Linked DNA regions of Homo sapiens: region 2 is linked to region 1. Evidence: fine-mapped expression QTL. A gene starts in region 1. The other region holds a variant in brackets. All regions are shown on one strand. Distances are from middle to middle.

Evidence for each region.
Region 2: its variant is fine-mapped to the expression of NSMCE1 in whole blood (INTERVAL, PIP above 0.99). The same link has a PIP of 0.9 or more in skeletal muscle.

Annotation. Positions count from the first base shown.
Region 1 is chr16:27,265,089-27,274,806 of GRCh38, forward strand. It overlaps NSMCE1 (NSE1 component of SMC5/6 complex), which reads right to left and starts at 3,684. Exons shown (of 8, transcript NM_145080.4): 1 at 3,618-3,684. It overlaps NSMCE1-DT (NSMCE1 divergent transcript), which reads left to right and starts at 3,117. Exons shown (of 5, transcript NR_037184.1): 1 at 3,117-3,156. RefSeq lists a silencer at 3,578-3,657 and an enhancer at 6,566-7,114.
Region 2 is chr16:27,220,617-27,230,334 of GRCh38, forward strand. It overlaps KDM8 (lysine demethylase 8), which reads left to right. Exons shown (of 8, transcript NM_024773.3): 8 at 1-1,152. The coding sequence ends at 114. It overlaps NSMCE1 (NSE1 component of SMC5/6 complex), which reads right to left. Exons shown (of 8, transcript NM_145080.4): 6 at 6,104-6,220; 7 at 5,110-5,230; 8 at 4,378-4,620. The coding sequence ends at 4,541. Among named protein-coding and RNA genes, the nearest start is that of KDM8, 22 kb to the left of the region's middle. RefSeq lists an enhancer at 1,779-2,464. The variant C/T (reference allele first, on the strand shown) is at 4,158.

The DNA of each region.
Region 1 (9,718 bases):
CAGGCAAAAATTTTAAAAGAATGGCTGAGGCTGAAACTTTCATCTGCTGCTGGGAGAGTATAAATTCTTTTCCTTTTTTTTTTTTTTTTTTTTTTTTGAGACAGGGTCTCACTCTGTTGCCCAGGCTGGAATGAAGTGACACAGTCATAGCTCACTGCAGCCTTGACCTTGTGGGCTCAATCGATCCTCTGACCTCAGAACCCCCTAGCAGCTATGACTACAGGCACACACCACTATGCCCGGCTAATTTCTGTATTTTTTGTAGAGATGGGGTCTCACCTGTTGCCCCAGCTGGTCTCATACTCCTGGACTCAAGCGATCCACCCACCTCAGCCTCCCAAAGTGCTGGGATTACAGGTGTGAGCCACCACTCCAGGCTGAGTATAAATTATTGTAACCATTTCAGATAACAGTTGATATTACTAGCAAATTTGCATATCCCCCGAAATCTACTATTAGGTATATACCTTACAGAAACTTCCACATTTGCCCTAGGAGATATGTTTTTACAGAAGCACCTTGTAATAACAAAAGTCTGGCAACAGTATAAATGCCTACCAACTGAAGAACTACATTAAAACAATATAATCATCCCATAGAATTCAAATCAGCAATGAAGACAAAGTAGAGCTCCTCACATCAACACGCATACTTCTCAGAAAGATAATGTTAAGTGCAACAAGCAAGTCACACAAAATATATTTTAGGATCCTATTACATAAAATCGAAAACTCAGCAAAAGCATACATTCATTCATTAGAAATACACACATACATGGTAAAAACTACAAAGCAAAACAAGGCAACAAGTAACACAATATTCAGGGCGGTGGTTATCTTTGAGGAGGGAAGAAAGGATTCAGTGGAGGGTCTGGCAATCTGAAAATGTCTATTTCTTAACTTGGTGGCAGGTACATGAGTGTTCATTTTATTTTTGTTCTTCAAACTTACACTTCCACACAATTGTATAGGTATGTTACATACAATGTTTTTAAATGTGATGGGCTGGGCATGGTGATTCACACCTGTAATCTCAATACTTTGGGAGGTCAAGGCGGGAGGACTGCTTGAGGCCAGGAGTTTAAGACCAGCCTGGGCAACATAGCAAGATCCACTCTCAACAACAACAACAACAACAAAATAATGTGAATATGTTAAATAACAGCCAAAATAAATGTAAATGAGAATGAGAACAGGATAGGATTGAATGCTATAATTTGGTGGAAAAGGAGTGGGAAAAGTAGGAGTGGAAGAAAGACAACCATAAGCTTGTTTATGCATATTATGTCCCTTGTCTCTATGAGAAGAGACTGTAGGGAGAATGGTGGGATTAGCATAGACATGTATTACCTACTTAAATAATTTTATTTTATACAAAAATCAGCCAGGCGTGGTGGTGCACGCCTGTAATCCCAGCTACTCAGAAGGCTAAGGCAGGAGAATCGCTTGAACCCAGGAGGTGGAGGTTGCAGTGAGCCAAGATCGCGTCACTGCACTCTAGCCTGGGCGACAGGGCGAGACTCTGTCACAAAAAGAAAAAAAAAATTACTTTTTTTAAAAAAATTAATTAAAACAGTTTATTGGCTTTAAATGTACATCAGTAAATTTTTAAATGCTAAAAAGTTATGATAAAATAATACAGAACCAAAACATCAAAGAAAATAGAGGCTCAGCAGCATGATTTCAATATATTTTCCCGGATAAACAGATTTTTTTTCTAAGTATATGCCTTTTTATTCAAGAACAAAAACTCCCTAAATTCAATGTTTAGAACTGAATTTTTTTTAACTAAGCCCAGAAAACTGGGGCTCATAAAATAAGGCATAATGTGGGCAGCAAAAGAAAAAAGGAGAAAAAAAATGGGAGAAAAATTGGTTTTAATCCCATGTATAATATAGGTTGGCTGGTTTTGTTTTTGTTTTAGCCAATTTAAGGCAGAATTATCTCTCTGCAACCTTGCAGATAAATCCTAGTGTTTTAGCCATAAGTTTCAAGAGTTCATATATACAGATAAACCAATTAAAAAAACCTTTTCGAAGGCTTTTGAAGCATTATATAAATCTTTAAAATTCCTATCACCCACATTTTAAGAAATACATCTATACGTTTAAATTTATTATTAAATTAATTAAATGCATTAATTAAATCAATTTATTTAAATTTAATAATTTTAAAATAGAAATGTTTGTGGAATAAGTAAATCTCAGTCATACCATTCGTGCGGGTGCTAACACAATTCTAGTGCTTCACATGCCCGACCTCATTTAACCCAAACCAGAACAACCTTATGAGCAAAGGGTCACTGACCCCATCTTACAGATGAGGAAACTGAGACTAAGAGGGCACAAGGTGACACACAAGAGTTGGTGGCAGAGATAGACGTGACCATACAACAGCACAGTTCCTGTTTTCAAGGACACTCTCTATCCAGCGAGAGTGAGAAAAGTGAGTGAACAGAACAACTACAATCCAGGTCCCTCATCTGCAACCCTCAAATCTAAAAAGGTATGAATACTAGTGGATGATCGGATGCAGGGGAAAAAAAAAAAAAAGTCTGAATACCAAAACTTGTTTAAGTTGGAAAACTTGACCTGACTTAAGGTGAGGCTATTTATGGTTATTTATCCCAACAGTGTAAATATATGCATTTTTTTTTTTGAGACGGAGTTTCGCTCTTGTTGCCCAAGCTGGAGTGAAGTGGCACGATCTTGATTCACTGCAACCTCCGCCTCCCGGGTTCAAGCGATTCTCCTGCCTCAGCCTTCCGTCTCAGCCTCCCGAGTAGCTGGGATTACAGGCACGCACCACCACGCCCGGCTAATTTTTTGTATTTTTAGTAGAGACAGGGTTTCACCATATTAGCCAGGCTGGTTTCGAACTCCGAACCTCAGGTGATCCGCCCCCCTCAGCTTCCCAAAGTGCTGGAATTATAGCCGTGGGCCACCGCGACCAGGTCAATGTAATATATGCGTATCTTCATAACTTTAGCTGTGGAAAGGGTCGTGTATTTGATTACAAGCCGCTGCTCCAGCCCCCTCTGAGGGTGAAACCTAACATAGAACATAGGGACTTTACCTTTCCAAACTCCGAGAACTCCTCGATTTTAAACGCATCTGGCCTCGGGGCTGTAACATAAGCGGCTGCGGACTTGTACAAAGTAAGAAACTCCGTACACAAAACAGAGGGGAGCACGGAGGGCGGCGGGACAAAGAGGGTGGTCGGCAAAGGCTGTATTTTCCATAGATGTAATCACAGTTTGAATCGAATTTTATATTTTGCTTTTTCACCTGTTACAATGAAAAGTATCTTTACCTGTTAAATCGTAATTACGATTAAAAATATTTTTCACTAAATAGTAAGATTTTTAGATGTCTGCGTGTGTGTTGCGGGAGGACATCCCAGTCCGCTGTTTTCTGCGGCCCCTGTCTGGGCCTCAGTTTCCCCATCAAGAAGGGGGAAACCCCAAGACCCCAGTCCCCGAGTTCCACAGCCCACGGGGACCGACCCCGGGGCCGGACCCCACTGCCTGTCTCGCCCACCCCACCTTCCGTCCTCCCCTCGCCTTCCTTGAAGTCCCTCTTCTTTCCCCTCCAACCCCTAGCTCCCCACGTTACCCACCAGGGAGCCCAAGCGCATCCCAGGCCGCGCTAGCGGATACGGTCGCAAGGTGGACTCTTCTTCCTTTGAGGCGGGGCGAACGCGAACGCGGCGTTCCCATTGGTGGCCTGCGGCTTATTCGCCCGTCCGTTGAGTGACGCACTTCCGGTTCTCCGTTTGCGCCATTGCCCTGGTGGTTCCGCCTCGTGGGTTAGATCCCAAATTACGCCCGCTCTCGATCCTTAATAATGGGAAGGGGCTTCCACTTGTCGCCCTCCGCCTCCTGCACCTCAGTGACTTCCCTGACCAAGGAGGAAGAATTGGCGTGCAGCCTGGGCTTCCCTCAATGGCCACCATTCCGCTGGCACAATGTAGTGCCCTGCCCCGGGCCTCAGTTTCCCCATCTGTGGAACTGAGTGTGGCCTCGACGTCAAAAATGTGGACTCTGGTCCGGTCGCGGTGGCTCACGCCTGTAAGTAATCCCAGCACTTTGGGAGACCAAGGCGGGCCGATCACTTGAGGTCAGGAGTTCGAGACCAGCTTGGCCAACATGGTGAAACCCCCGTCCCTACTAAAAATACAAAAAGTAGCCGGGCGTGGTGGTGTGTGCCTGTAATCCCAGCTACCCGGGAGGCTGAGGCAGGAGAATCACTTGAACCCGAGAGGCAGAGGTTGCAGTGAGCCAGATCGTACCACAGCACTCGAGCCTGGGTGACAGAGCTCAAAAAAAAAGAAAAGAAAAATGTGGACTCTGTGGTCATAGAGCCTGATCTAGAATCCTGGCTCTGCCACTTACTAGTTGGCAGGCGCTTGGGCAAGTCACTGAGCCTCAGTTTCCTCTTCCATTAAATGAGGATATTAGTTCTTGCAAAATAGTGTTGGTGAGATTTACAAGAGATAATAACACCTATATCAGGTGCTTAGCATGGCCATTGAAAAGTGTCACATGGGAGTGCTGATTATATGTTAACTGTTATCTTACCTAGGGATTGTGAGAAAGCAAGTGAAATTACTCGTGGAAGTGAATGGACTGCTTTGAGTCTTCAAGGCGTTAATTTTCCAAACGTTTGAATTCTATCCCTGGTCTGAGAGCTAGGGATGCAGCCTAGCAAGGGAAACAGGTAACTAATATAGAACAGCAGTACCTGCAAATATCTGTCTCTGTGAGGATAGATCAAATCCAGGCTTGGTCACTCACCACCCCTGTGATCTTGGACAACCTCTTAACCTCTCTGGGCTTCAGTTTCATCTGCTAAGTGGGAAAGCAGTGGTGTGTGGTGATTAAAAGCTTCAGCTTTGGAGCTGGATGGTCAACATGGAATCCTGGGCCTTAAACTCAGTGTCTCTGAGACATAGGACAAAGTACAGTCAGCTGTCCATGTTTACAGGTTCCCCATCTACGGATTGAAGCAACTGTGGGTGGTTAATATTTGTGGGGGAAAACAGTAAAAAATAACAGTTCAACAATAAAAATAATACAGATTCCGAAAGCAATACAGCATAGCAATTACTTATATAGCATTTACATTGTATTAAGTATTGTAAGTAATTTAAAGATGATTTTCAATATACTGGAGGATTTGTGTAGGTTAAATGCAAGTATTCTCGCATTTTGTAAGCACCCAATGGTTCTCCTTGCCTGCTTCCTAGACAGAACCAATTTATCAAGACAGGGGAATTGCAATAGAGAAAGTTTAATTCACACAGAGCTGGCTGAACAGGAGACCACAGTTTTATTATTACTCAAATCAGTCTCCCTGGAAATTCAGGGTTTTCAAGGATAATTTGGTGGCTGGAGGTGCTGGGGATTAGAGAGTGTTGATAGGTTGGATCAGAGAGGAAAGGAGTCAAAGCTGTCCTCTTGCACTGAGTCAGATCCTGGGTTAGGACCATAGGACCAGATTAGCCAGATTACAGGGCTGGGTGGCGTCAGCTGGTGCATTAGAACACGGGTTCTGCAAAATATCTCAAGCACTGATTTTAGGTTTTAGAACAGTGATGTTACTCCCGGAAGCAATCTGGGGAGGGTCAGAATCTTGTAGCCTCCAGCTTGCGTGACCTCCTAAACCATAATTTCTAATCTTTTAGCTAATTTGTTAGTCTACAAAGGCAGACCCGTTCCTAGGCAAGGAGGGGATTTGTTTTGGGAAAGGGCTATTATTGCCTTTGTTTCAAAGTTAAACTATAAACTAAGTTCTTTCCAACATTAATTCCACCTATGTCCAGGAATGATCAAGGACAGCTTGGAAGTTAGAAGCAAGATGGAGTCAGGCCAGATCTCTTTCACTATCATAATTTTCTCAGTTATGCTTTTTACAAAGGTGGTTTTGATTTTACATAAGGGACTTGAGCATCGAGAATTTTGGTATCCATGGGGACTAAGGTACCAATCCCTCACAGATACTAAGGGATGACTGAGCTCAAGTTTTCAGCTTCAGTTTGCTCATCTATAAAGCAGGTTTAATAATAACACTTTGTTGATAATGTTATTCTGAAGATTAAAGGAAGAGTAAACGTAAACTACTTAGAAGAGTGTCTCTGGCACATTGTAAGCCCTCAATAAGTGTGAACTAACACCACTAATAAGTTCTTTATAAACTGCCTAATAGGTAGTCAAATAAGAGGGGAAATAAAGCCCTAAGGAGTAATATTTGTGTTTTGTTTGCCCTACATGGTTTTGTGAAATTTTCTATTCATTATCAATATTTAAAGTTGGGGTTTTCAATCTTTGACTGGGCATGATGGCTCATTCCTGTAATTCCAACACTTTGGGAGGCCCAGCTGGGAGGATGGCTTGAGCTCAGAAGTTTGAGATCAGCCATGGCCAACATGGTGAGGCCCCCATCTCTACAAAAAAAATATATACGCGCGCGCGCACACACACACACACACACACACACACGCAAAAATTAGCCAGGCATGGTGGTGAACACCTGTGGTCCCAGCTACTCAAGAGGCTGAGGTGGGAGGACAGCTTGAGCCAAGGAGGAAGAGGTTGCAGTGAGCTGAGATTGCATCACTGCACTCCAGCCTGTGTGACAGAGCCAGACTCTGTCTCAAAAATAAATAAATAAACTTGGGACATTTCACATAAAACCCTACTGTAGCTGACTGCTCTGGAAAAGTGGGGAAGTCTGACGACAGTGGGCCAGCCTTCCCCCATGGCAGCACTTGTTCAGAACTTGGGAGAGACCGTCCCCTTTTGTGAAGCATGTGCTTCCCTGGTGTGTGGAGAGATAAAAGAATAGAAAACGCTGGGAACACCAGCATTTCAAGATCAAAGCGTCAAGAAAAAAAGGTAGAAAGAAAAGAAAGATTCAAGACTGAGGGGGTTGGTCTTTCACTTGAAGACCATAGAAGTGATGGAAGACCAGGAAGAAATGAGAGAAGGTTTGTATTTTAGAAAAAGAACTTGGGTATATCTATTCTTTTCAAACATGCTTGGAACATTTACAGAAATTGATTACTGGGCCACAAAGGAAGCTTCAAGAAATTCTCAAGAATCTATAGGTGACATTCATGAACCACATGCTGTGAAAGTGGCATCAGAGGCACATAGGAATACAGACTTTTGAGAAGGAGGGTGTGGTCAGAATCGTCAATGCTCTGGAGAGGTCGAGTAAGATGCGCCACTGATTTAGAATTTGATGGCCAACAAAGGCCATCTTAATAGAGAGGGGAGGAAGCCAGATCGAACTCCAAGAGTGAAGAGTGGAAGTTGAGGAAGTGGAGAGGGAATGCTGACTGCTCTTTTGGGAAGTATGGCTTCAGAAGGGAAGACTTGAAGACATAGGAGCAGAGATAATAATCCATAAAATAAAAACAGGCAGCCGGGTGCGGTGGCTCACGTCTGTAATCCCAGCACTTTGGCAGGCCGAGGCGGGTGGATCATGAGGTCAGGAGTTCGAGACCAGCCTGGCCAATATGGTAACACCCTGTCTCTACTAAAAATACAAAAATTAGCTGGGCATGGTGGTGCGTGCCTGTAGGCCCAGCTACTTGGGAGGCTGAGGCAGAAGAATCACTTAAACCCAGGAGGCAGAGGTTGCTGTGAGCTGAGATCGAGCCACTGTACTCCAGCCTGGGTGACAGAGTGAGATTCCATCTCAAAAAAAAAAAAAAAAAGAATTTGAGACTAGCCTGGCCAACATAGTGAGACCCCATCTCTACTAAAAATACAAAAAATTAGCCGGGCGTAGTGGCGCACACCTGTAGTCCCAGCTACTCTGGACGCTGAGGCAGGAGAATGTCTTGAACCCAGGAGGTGGAGGTTGCAGTGAGCCGAGACTGTGCCAGTGCACCCCAGCCTGGGCAACAGAGCAAGACTCTGTCTTAAAAAAAAAAAAAAAAACACCAAAAAAAAAACAGACAAAAAGGGATGGGGTCAAAGGTGTATAGCGACAGGATTACTGTTAACCTAGAGAAGAGAAGAGACACTTCTGAAACAGCAGGAAAAGAGGTGAAAGTGGCTAAAAAAAGCTCACTCCTGATGTTTTCCGTTTTCTCCGTAAGGTAGCAAACAGTATCAATCTTTGGCTGAAGAGGGCCTGGCGTGGTGGCTCACACTTGTAATCCCAGCACTTTGGGAGGCTGAGGTGGGAGGATTGCTTGAGATCAGGAGTTCGAGACCAGCCTGGGCAACACAGCAAGACCTCGTCTCTACAAAAAAAAAATTAAAAATTAGCCGAGTGTGGTGGCATGTGTCTGTAGTCCCAGCTACTTGAGAGGTTGAGGTGGGAGGATGGCTTGAGCCTGGGAGGTAGAGCCCAGGAGGTTGAGGCTACAGTTGAGGTTAAGGTTGAGGGATGGTGCCACTGCACACCAGCCTATCCCAAAAAAAGGTTGGGAGGTGCTGAGGAGATGCTAAGGGATTTAAGGGGAATGGATCAAAAGGTTTGGAAGAGACGCTGACGACAATGCAGAGATGAGTTCCTAGCTGAGGTTGAAACCAGAAATGTGTAGAGATGACAGTTGGTTATCTGATCCCTCCCTCAACACCCCCATCCCCATCCTGGGGGCTTCAGAGCAGAAGCTCAGCCTGGATTCATACTGAAGTGGGCCTTAGCTGGGGTTAAGCAACTGATTCATAGAAGGCCAAGTGACGGGAGAATGCTACTGTCAAGTGATCCACTATGGATCTGGCAAAAATAAAAAGAAGGGAAAGTGCTGACAAATTAAAATGGAAGCAGTACAGCAATCAGAGGCCTCTATGAGGTGAATCTCGTTCAGCAGGAACAAGTAGTGAGTAAGGATCGAAGTTCATCATGCAGAGTGGTCCCCCATGGGGTGACAGTCCTGCCTCAGTATGACTCAGAGGACGGCTCATTCCCTAGTGGGCTCTGTGAGTATTTATTGGGCCTTTGAAGTGCCAGACTTTGGACTCTCTATTCCTGGACAGCTCTGATGGTTCAGACTTCTCAAAGCTGACCCTAAAATGCATGAGAGCTATGAGTACATAAATTTGTTGACCACAAGGCGAGGGCCAAGGCCTTGGCTAGAGAGGAAGCTTCGGGAAATAATATGCTGAGGGTGTTGGTCTTTCACCCGAAGACCACAGAAGCTTATGAAAAGTAAGTGATGAGATCAGGCTTGTATTTTAGAAAAAAAAACTTTGGTATATCTATTCTTTACAGAAATTGACTATGTACTGGGCCACAAAGGAAGCTTAAATGAATTCCAAAGAATCTATAGACCACATTCACAAACCGCAATGTGGTAAAATTAAACATCAACAACAAAAAGAGAGCCAAAAAGGTGTAGATACAATACACCTTAAATTAGTAACTGCAGCTGCTTCTGAGGAAGGGGCCAGGAAGTCAGAATGAACTTTTTTTTTTAACCACGTACATCTATTACTTACGAATTTTTAAAAATTAAAAATTGGGCGGACGCACTGGCTCACGCCTGTAACCCCTGCACTTTGGGAGGCCAAGGCAGGTGGATCACCTGAGGTCAGGAGTTTGAGACCAGCCTGGACAACATGATGAAACCGCATCTCTACTGAAAATACAAAAAAATCAGCCAGGCATGGTGGTGAGTGCCTGTAATCCCAGCTACTCAGGAGGTTGAGGCAGGAGAATTCCTTGAACCCAGGAGGCAGAGGTTGCAGTGAGCCAAGATCG
Region 2 (9,718 bases), 44 kb before region 1:
CCATTCCTGTCCTGCATCCTGTCTCCTGGAGAGATCCTGTTCATCCCGGTGAAATACTGGCATTACGTGCGGGCTCTGGATTTGAGCTTCTCGGTCAGCTTCTGGTGGTCGTAGCCAGGATAGGAGCTGAAAGGGCCTGACATGCAGACAGCATTCATCTGTTCACTAATTTCCTGGGTCCTGGAATCTATAGAGACAAGCAGGACTGAACCTGTGTCCTGAAGAGCCTTCACTGCCCAGTGGCAGCCCTGGGGGGCTGAGCTCCAGCACTGGACAGGCACAGAGCAGGGGCTGCCCAGGAAGGAGCACACTCCAGGCCAGGGGTGCATGGCAGAGGAAGGTGGGGAGAGCCCAGAAGGACATTGCAGACAGACAGCCTGCATGGGGACTCTGGCATCAGAAAGCCGAATGTTTTTGGGAAACGGGTGGGTCACACAGGCAGGGGTGAAACATGGGCTCTGAGGTTGGCTACCTGATTCAAACCCGGCCGCGCTGTGCACCTGCTGGGTGACTTGGCCAGGATCCCCCACTTCGCTGTGCCCATATGGAAAAGAGGGCAAGGCCAGTCCTCACTGCCGAGGGCCGAGAAGGCGGTGCCGAGCCCCTGCTGCTGCATGAACCTTAGCCGCTGTCACTGATCCCAATTACTCTGATCCTTTTGCCCTTCCTTCCCATAACGGCCTGCTGGACGCCACAGCCTGAATACTGGAGAGAGCTGGGCATTGCCCAGGTCACAGGAGAGAGTCCGTAGAGACCTGCGCAGGAGCCGGGACCCCTGCTGAGCAGTGGGAGCTTTCTGTCATCCCCATGGCTCAAGGATAACCTACCTGCCTGCAGAGAAGTGCGAAGGTCTTGCTGGATGACTTTTCACCCGCACTCACCCAGGAGCAGGCTCCCAAGTGAAGAAACCACCGAACCATCACCAGCTCCTAGAAGCCTCCCTCCTACCACCTTCTAGTCACCATCCCCCAGAAGTAATGACTCTCAAACCTGGGGGATTTGAGGCCAGGGGGAGAGCCAGGCTCTATGCTTTCTGTAATTGTGTCTCGTTTGTGTGCACGCAGGTTTGTTTTATGTTTTGGCCATTAAGATTTTCCCCAGCCCTCTGTTTTTTGTTTTTTAAACTAAATAGAGATGGGATCTTGCTATGTTGCCCAGGCTGGTCTTGAACTTCTGGGCTTAAGCAATCCTCCCACCTTGGCCTCCCAAAGTGCTGGGGTTACAGGTGTGAGCCACATGCCAGCCTTGGCTTCTTTCTTCCCCGCTTCTAAGATAGGCCTGGGGAAAAGAGCCCTGAGGGTTGAGCTGCCATCCTGCCAGCATCCTGCCACTGGCTCAGCTGCTTGTCTTTTAGCCAAAAATCAAGCAGCCCCAGGAAAGATTCTGGTTGGCCAGGAGGTAGCTACCCTGGGGTAACTAGAAGGGGGATGGGAAAGTGGCTGTGGGCAGCTGAACTCCAGCTCCTGATGCCCTCTACCCAGGCCAAGGAATTTGACTTTATCGTGTAGGTCCTGGGGTTCTCAGCCTTTGAGCAGACACAGCAGAATCTGCATTCTCGAAAGCTGGCTGTTGGCAGGGAGAGGCCGTGATACTCATCCTGGGAGTGGGCTGCCGAGGGGCCATGGGCGTGCTGGGGAGTGACAAACACAAGAGCTATCTGGAAGCTGAGTCCACTTGGCTCCGTGGGCAGCTGTTTGCAAGGACATTGTTTATTCCCTGCCATGGTTAATAGTGAATTACCTAATCTTTCACAGGAAGAATTTACACCAGATGTCAACACCCCTGAAAGTAGCGAGGCATAAAACAGGGACGCCCTCATGACTAGGTTCGCCATTAGTGAGGAGGGGTGGCGGCCCGGCCACAGTGGGCTGTGACTCCTGGCCCGCCTGTGTAACTCAAACCCCTTCCCCAGCTGAAGGACAGGTGGACTGTGGCCCCAGCTCCCAGTGCCTAGCCGCTCCAGCTGGCAAGCCCCACGGCCCATCTGTAGTGTAGCGTGACAGAAAGCTGGGCACGGGAGGCCACGTTCATTAACGTGTGGTATCCTGGCCAGGTGGCTTCAAGCAGATGTCCCTTGTCAGATGAGGAATGGGAAAAGGGGAAATGTCCTGCCCTGTGGGTGAGGACACGCAGCATCTGGAACTCCTCATGAGGGTTTTGAGTGAGTGCTAGTGTGCGTTGTGGGACGTTCATGTCGGTGTTATCATGCAGGGGTTGGAGGCAAGAGAGACAAGCAGCAGGAGGGCTGGTGTCCCCAGTGGCCAAGTGCCCAGAGGCTTCCTGAGTCCCCAGCCAGGACTGACTCGAGCTCAAAGAATGAACAGCCAGAACCACAGGACAACTGGGACAGTCCGGAGCTGCCCCGGCCCCTCCTGCAGGCATTATTTGCTAGTTGGCTTTTTGCCTTCTGGCGTCCATCTTCCCGTCTTCCAGAACGGCAAGCTGACTGCATTCTGGAGAATGACCTCTGCCCCAGGGATGCGGTCCTGGAAGGTCTGTACATCAGCTCCTCCCTGGACCGGCATCTTGAGGGCGTGTCGGGAGGAGCTCAGACAGGCTGGAGCCGACCCCCTGTGGCAGCAGCGCCCGCAGTGACAGAATTGTCTTGACATCCATGACCCTTATTCCAAGGTCTCCCATTCTAGACTGGTCCTGCCTTCCTGTCATTTCTGCAAGCCACCTCATACGTTTCCAAAAAACCCCTCTTTAGGTGAGGCCGGCCGGGGCTGGCAGTGGCTGAACGTACTGGGCTTACCAATGGGCGTGTCTCTGCCCACTGACGAAGGGCTGGGCTGGGTCCCCGGCTGCCTCACTATGGGAAGGTGGGCTTGAGGGCTGAGGAGCCCAGACCTGGTTCTGGGAGGGTGAGCCTCCCACCAGCAGGGGTCATTGGTTCACTGAGCCTTGGATGCCTGCTCCACCCTGGGTTTATGGAGGTGAACAAAGTGGGGTGGTCCTGCCTGCAGCGGGGGAGGCCAGCCACCAATTCAGTGTCCAAGTTCACTCCCTGCTGCCCCTGAGGCTACTGAAGATGTGATCGCACCTTCGATATGCTTAGGGAAAGGCCCCTGCTCCCTCAGCCACGTGGCCTGAGAGGGACAGTCCCACCCCTCTCTCCGAGGTGGGTCTAATTTTCCAATGCCAGCTGGATAATCCCATCCCCACCTCACAGGTGTCCACGTGGGAGCTGTGGGCCATGAGGATGCTTGCAAGGATGTGGGAGCCACTAAGTGAGAGCCACCCTCTTCCTCCTGATCCCAGGCATGATGCGCGAGGCCCAGAGGCATGGCAGCTATTTTGCTACCATGAAGAAGGCAGCTGGATTTCTAGGAAACCACCTCGTAGGCCCCAAGCATGCAGCCAGCCCAGTGAAAGCACAGTAGACACAGAAATATGGCTGTGTGGTGACCTTGCTGGAGCCTCTAGACCAGGCATCTCCTCAAGACCCCTGTGGCCAAGTCCGTCCTTGTTTCAGCCAGTCTGAGTTGGCTTTTCTGTCATGACTGAAGCATCCTGACTGATGCTGGGGTTCAAGAGAGGGATGAAGATGGGGACTTAACAAGTGTGAGGATGGAGGAAGTGCAGGGAGCGAGGGGCTGACCAGTGCCAAAGGGCGAGCGGGTGCTAGCCAGGAAACAAAGCCAGACACCAGAGGGGAGGGCGCGCAGGCCCAGGGCGCTCTGTGTAGAGGCTCCGGAGCTGACGAAGGAAGCGCTGCACCCTGAGCAGTGGGTGGGGGGAGGCGGTGGCAGATGAGCAGGAGCCTCACCAGGGGTCACAGCCCTGCTGCAGCAGTGGGGGCATCCAGGGGTCTTCTGCAGGGAGCACAGAGGCAGAGTGTGGGCCGGGGCTGGAGCTCAGCCTGAGGCAGCAGTGGCAGGGCTAGAGGGCTATTGGCAGCTGGGCTGGACAGGATCTGGTGACAATGGGATGCAGGAGGGTCAGGGAGAGGAAGCACTGAGGCTGACTCCCAGTCCCGGCTGGGACAGCTGGATGGCAGGGCTGCCGGGCACCCACAGGGAGCAGAGCGTCCAGGGAGGGAGAGCACGCATCCCGCCCAAACGCCCAGCCTCAGCCCATTCAGGCCAGTGGCACCTTGGGCCAGGGGAGAGTCCAGACTGGGGAGCTGGGGAGGCCAAGGCTCACACATCCAGGTT[C/T]GGGCCAGCCCAGTCCTGCTGGGACAGCTGGCCACCGCTGGGACTGGAGGCAAGGCTGCCCTGGGCAAGGACAGTGAGCTGTTCTGAGTCATTGCTGGGGGCTCTTGCTGGCTTCACCTGCTGGAGCCCAAACCCAGGGGGTCTGAGTGACGACCGAACTCCAGGAAAGGCAAGGCCCCAACACGGAGCCTCACACACGGGCTCGAGAACACAGACGGGCTGCAGCAACTTCCCAGGATGGTTTATTCCAAAGCTGTGGACGGTGAACATTAAGACGAAAGAGGTGACTCGCGTGGAACCTGAAACACGGACGCCTTTCTTCCAAGAAGGGCTGTGGCGATCAGGCCACTCAAGGCAGCCAGCCCCTCAGCAGGGCACGATGGCTAATGCTGCCTGGACCGCAGGGACTTTTTGTTCGATTTCAAGACACCAGACTCCCTCTCCTTCTCAGGGTCGAAGACTTCTGTAGACAGAAAAGGCAGGAAAGACACAGTGAATGGAGGGGCTGGCAGCACAGGGGCACCAGCTGGAGCCAGCAGCTACGTCTCCTGTGCCAAGGACTGTCCTAGGTCTACACCATCCTTCACTGCTAACCCTCCCCAGCCCGTGAGGAAGGCAGAGTTAGCCCCAGTTCAGAGAGGAACAAACTGAGGGAGCTGTGGACATAGCTTTCACGTCCCCCTCCTGAGAGGGCTGCCAGAGAGAGAGCCTTGTCTAGACAAAATGCTCATACACGTTGGAATTTCAGCTGGGTTCTAGAAAGTCCTCTGGAGCGGTGCACGTAGCTCAGCCTTTACTTCCTGCAGTGGCTTCTTCTAGGATTCAAGCTGCTAACACGGACCCCCACACACCCTGGAGCCCTTCAGGGCCCTGTCTCCAAGGGCTTCCCTGGCACCAGGCCCCACGTCCTGCTGGCCCAGCCCCTCCCATGAGCTCCTCAGGGCCCACGCACTTGGGATCTCGTGGGGCCAGTAGTCGTTGCAGTGGGGGCAGCGCGGTTCAGCATTCGACTGGAAGTACTTGGCCACGCAGGGTAAGTGCATCCTGATCCCACAGGTTTCGCAGCTTTGACCCTGAAACAGGAAAGGCCAATGACGGCGGAGCTGGTGCACACCTCCATGTTCTGCAAACCTCCGGGGAAGCCACAAGGGAAATGGGCAGCAGGTGGCATCGTGTTATCTTCTGGGCCCCAGATTAATATTGAAAATAATCCCAAACGCCTTAGTGCAGTGGAGTCTTTTGTTTGCTTGCTGCTTGTTGCGGTGGGTTTTACTAAACAATTCTGAACACATGAACGCAGTGACAGAAGCCGAGGGCTCCCAAACTCCTGCACTCAGATCCTGCAGGTGGCGTGTGGACAGCCACAGCTTTTCAGAAGCTTATTTGCTAATGTGAATCAAAAGCTTTCAAAAAAAAAGTGCACTTTGTCCCAGAAACTCCGCCCAAGGAAATAATCACCAGGTGCCCAAGGATACAGGTGTACGAGGCCCGTAAGAGCAATTGCAATTACAAACAGCTACAGCTGCAAAACGATAGAAACTGAAAGACACATCAATGTCCACGCTGGTTCAGCGGTTGCAAAGCCCTGCAAACCAGTGTTAAGACCACTCCAGAAAGCAGCAATCGACAAGAGACACTCACTACAAAACTACCAAGATGATGCAGGTTGCACAGAACACTCAGCCTTCCTGAGAAAAATAAAGTAAGCGAGGGCCCTTGGACCCCAACAGCAGAACCAGGGAGGAGGGCGGCAGTGCGTCCCTGCGGGGCACAGCAGGGAGGCGTCCTGACACGTCCTGGGAGATGGCCTCCGCCAGCTCTTGTGGGAGGATGCGCCAGCAGTGCAGGAGGGCTGGGCCCAGAGCCAGGATTCCGGGAAGTACCTGTACAGAGCCCCGGGAGCCGAGGGCCCAGTGATGAGCTCCCGTGCCCTGCCCTGCGGGTACCTGGATGAGGAGGCTGTGACAGATATTGCAGATCTTCACCGCGTCGGGGTACGTCTCCCGGATGTATTGCTCCATCTCCAGGATGGCCCGGCCGTGCAGGGTGAACTCCCCTTCCTTCTGCAGGGACACACAGGAGGTGGCCACCCTCAGCCAGGCCCTCTCCCCATTCACCACCTCTCTTCCCTCTGTGATCCCACAGCCCAGTGCTCAGGAAGACACAAGGGTCTACGCAGCTTTTCACCAACCCCAGCCAACGGGCATCAGCCACATCCCCCTGGCAGAGCCTCGGCAAGGGAAACTGAGGCAAAGACCCTAAAGACATGGAGGCGTGGCTCCCTGACACCCGCCTTTTCTCAGCATCTGCTGTGCCTTCAGACGTGACTTCTCTGTCTGCACGGCAGCCTCGAGGGAGGCAGTCACAGCCCTCCTGCAGATGAGGACGCTGAGGCCCACAAGGGGGTCAGTCTCCCCAGGGTGCAAACCCAAACACCCACTGCTGCCATCCGCCACCCATCCCACTCCCAAAAAGCAGCATCCCTGGTGCCTCCCAGCACTTCTGCCTCCCAGCACTTCTGCCTCCAACTGCAGTAGGGACCCTCAGAGATCACTTCCAGCCACATCACTTTACAGATGGAGCTGGAAGGAGTCTGGAGAGGGCAGACAGGCCCCATCACACTGTGGGCAGTGGAGCCTCCAGTGGAAGCCAGGCCTCCTGGTTCCCATGCCAGGGTGCGGTCCACCCATCATGCATCCTGAAATCCCTGGGAGAGCCCGGAAGCACAAGAACAATGCAGCTCCCCAGGCCGACCCTACTGCCAGGTCACAGGAGAAAGGCAGCACTGAGGGAGACCCAAGGCAGGCAAATGACACGGGACCCAGGACATGGACCCATGCAGGCTGATTCCAGTTTCTCCACAGTCAGCTCATGCATCGGATATGAACCACACCAGGAGATGACGTCACTGACGCCTGCAAGTCACCCGAGTGCTCAACTGCCTTTTCTGTTATTTTCTAATTTTTAATTTTTACAAGCAAGAGCTGTCACTCCCGTTTCTTTTCTTTTCTTTTTTTTTTTTTTTTTTTGAGATGGAGTTTTGCTCTTGTTGCCCAGGGTGGAATGCAATGGCACAATCTTGGCTCAATGCAACTTCCGCATCCCGGGTTCAAGCAATTCTCCTGCCTCAGCCTCCTGAGTAGCTGGGATTACAGGCATGCGCCACCACGCCTGGCTAATTTTGTATTTTTAGTAGAGACAGGGTTTCACCATGTTAGCCAGGCTGGTCTTGAACTCCCGACCTCAGGTGATCCGCCCACCTCGGCCTTCCAAAGTGCTGGGATTGCAGGCGTGAGTCACCGCACCCAGCCCACTCCCGTTTCTGACAGGTAGAGCCCCCCACCCCATTCCCACCTTCATCCCCACAGTGCAATGTGGAGGGGTGTGCTTGCGTAATCTGGGCTCACAGTGCGTTCGCTCTGGAACACCAGTAGAGGAGCTGGGTGAGCACAGGAAGGAAGGCAGGGCAGAAGCGTGGGGTTGGGGCATGGACAGCCGCTGCGGGAACAGTGGAGGGAGGCCGGGGCACCAGGTGCTTGTGCCCTGCACCGCAGCTGTTGCTGGTGCACAGGGGCTTTGTGTCATCCAAGTGCTGTGGGCAATGGGAGGATGTGACCAGCCCCCAGGCTGTCCTCGGTCCTCAGTCCTATGGCTGTTACCTTCCCCCAAAGCTCCCAAATCCATCATGGCACCCCACCTCCCTGGCCACCGCCCTCTTCCAGCCTCCCCTCCAGATCCATCACGGCACCCCACCTCCTTGGCCCCCACCCTCTTCCACCCTCCCCTCCAGATCCATCACAGCACCCCACATCCCCAGCCACCACCCTCTTCCACCCTCCCCTCCAGATCCATCATGGTACCCCACCTCTCCAGCCCCCACCCTCTTCCACCCTCCCCTCCAGATCCATCACAGCACCCCACATCCCCAGCCACCACCCTCTTCCACCCTCCCCTCCAGATCCATCATGGTACTCCACCTCTCCAGCCCTCACCCTCTTCCACCCTCCCCTCCAGATCCATCATGGCACCCCACACCCCCAACCACCGCCCTCTTCCGCCCTCCCCTCCAGATGCATCATGGTACCCCACATCCCCGGCCACCGCCCTCTTCCACCCTCCCCTACAGATCCATCATGGCAACCCACCTCCCCGGCCTCCACCCTCTTCCACCCTCCCCTGCTCCTGCTGCTCTCTGAGCCCACTCTCCTCCAGCAACGCACTCGCTACCGAACAAGCCTGGCCCTGTCACTCCCAACTCACCCCCACCCCAGGGCTTCCCACCACCCTTAGGTCCAAGAGCCAAGCCCCTAATACGCGTATCTCCCGGGCTGCCCTCCGTCTGCTCGCCTCGCAATCTTTGTGCTCAGATGGCCCTGGCCTTAGCTTCTTGAGTGCACCTGCTGGCCACAGGGCCACTGCCGGGCTGATGATCCTCCCACCCCAGGCTCCAGGCAACTCCCACACAGCCTTCAGCTCAAGTGTCACTTCCTCAGCAGCTGAGGGCCGGTTCCTCTGGGACAGCTGTCATAAAGCCATGTTTCCTTTCCATCTGTACCAGGACTGCAGTGAGATGACCGTCTCACTGATCTCGGGCTCCCCCTCCAGACCATGGCCCCATGGGAGCGGCCACCAGCTCTGGCTGTGCTCACTCCTGTGTCCGCAGCACCTGCTGTGGGGCCCAGCACTTGGCAGGCCTGTGATAAACACCCACGGGAAGATGAAGTAGACCTTGCACTGATCCCAAAGGAATGCCTGACACTAAGCAAGTTCAAGCTCAGACTGAGGCAGGAGCTGCATTTATTTTTTATTTATTTATTTGAGACAGAGTTTCGCTCTTGTTGCCCAGGCTAGATCATGCAATGGCACGATCTCAGCTCACTGCAACCTCTGCTTCCAGGGTTCAAGCGATTCTTCTGCCTCAGCTTCCCGAGTACCTGGGATTACAGATGCCCGCCACCACACCCAGCTAACTTTTTTATATTTTTAGTAGAGACAGGGTTTCACCATATCGGCCAGGCTGGTCTCAAACTCCTGACTTCAAGTGATCTACCCGCCTTGGCCTCCCAAAATGCTGGAATTACAGGTTTGAGCCACTGCACCCAGCCAAGCTGCATTTACTGAACACCTGCTATGTGCCTGAAACTGCACCCAAGGCTCACCATTCATGACCCACTCAGTCCTCTGAGGGCCCATCAGGGGAGGGGCAGGAGGGATGCCCTAGCCCTCAAAGACGACGACAGCCCAGGTGATCTCCCAGGCGCCTCGCCACAACACTTGGAAGTCAGGACCTCGTGTAGGGAGCAGTCCTGGGGTGTATGGAGGTGCGCCGATCAGCAGACGCCCAGCTCCCATGAGCCGCGCTTGCTCTCAGAGGCCTCCCCGCTGACCCCAACCACCTACCACCCCTGGGCCTTCTCCTGGACGGACAGCTGCCTCAGCACCTCCATGCCGGGCCAGTCTCACACAGGACTGGCTGTCCAGGAGTGACGTGTCCTTGGGGTGATATACCCACCTGGAAGGGCCTTGTCAGTGGGCCCCTGGCTATTTCTGTGGGAAGCCCT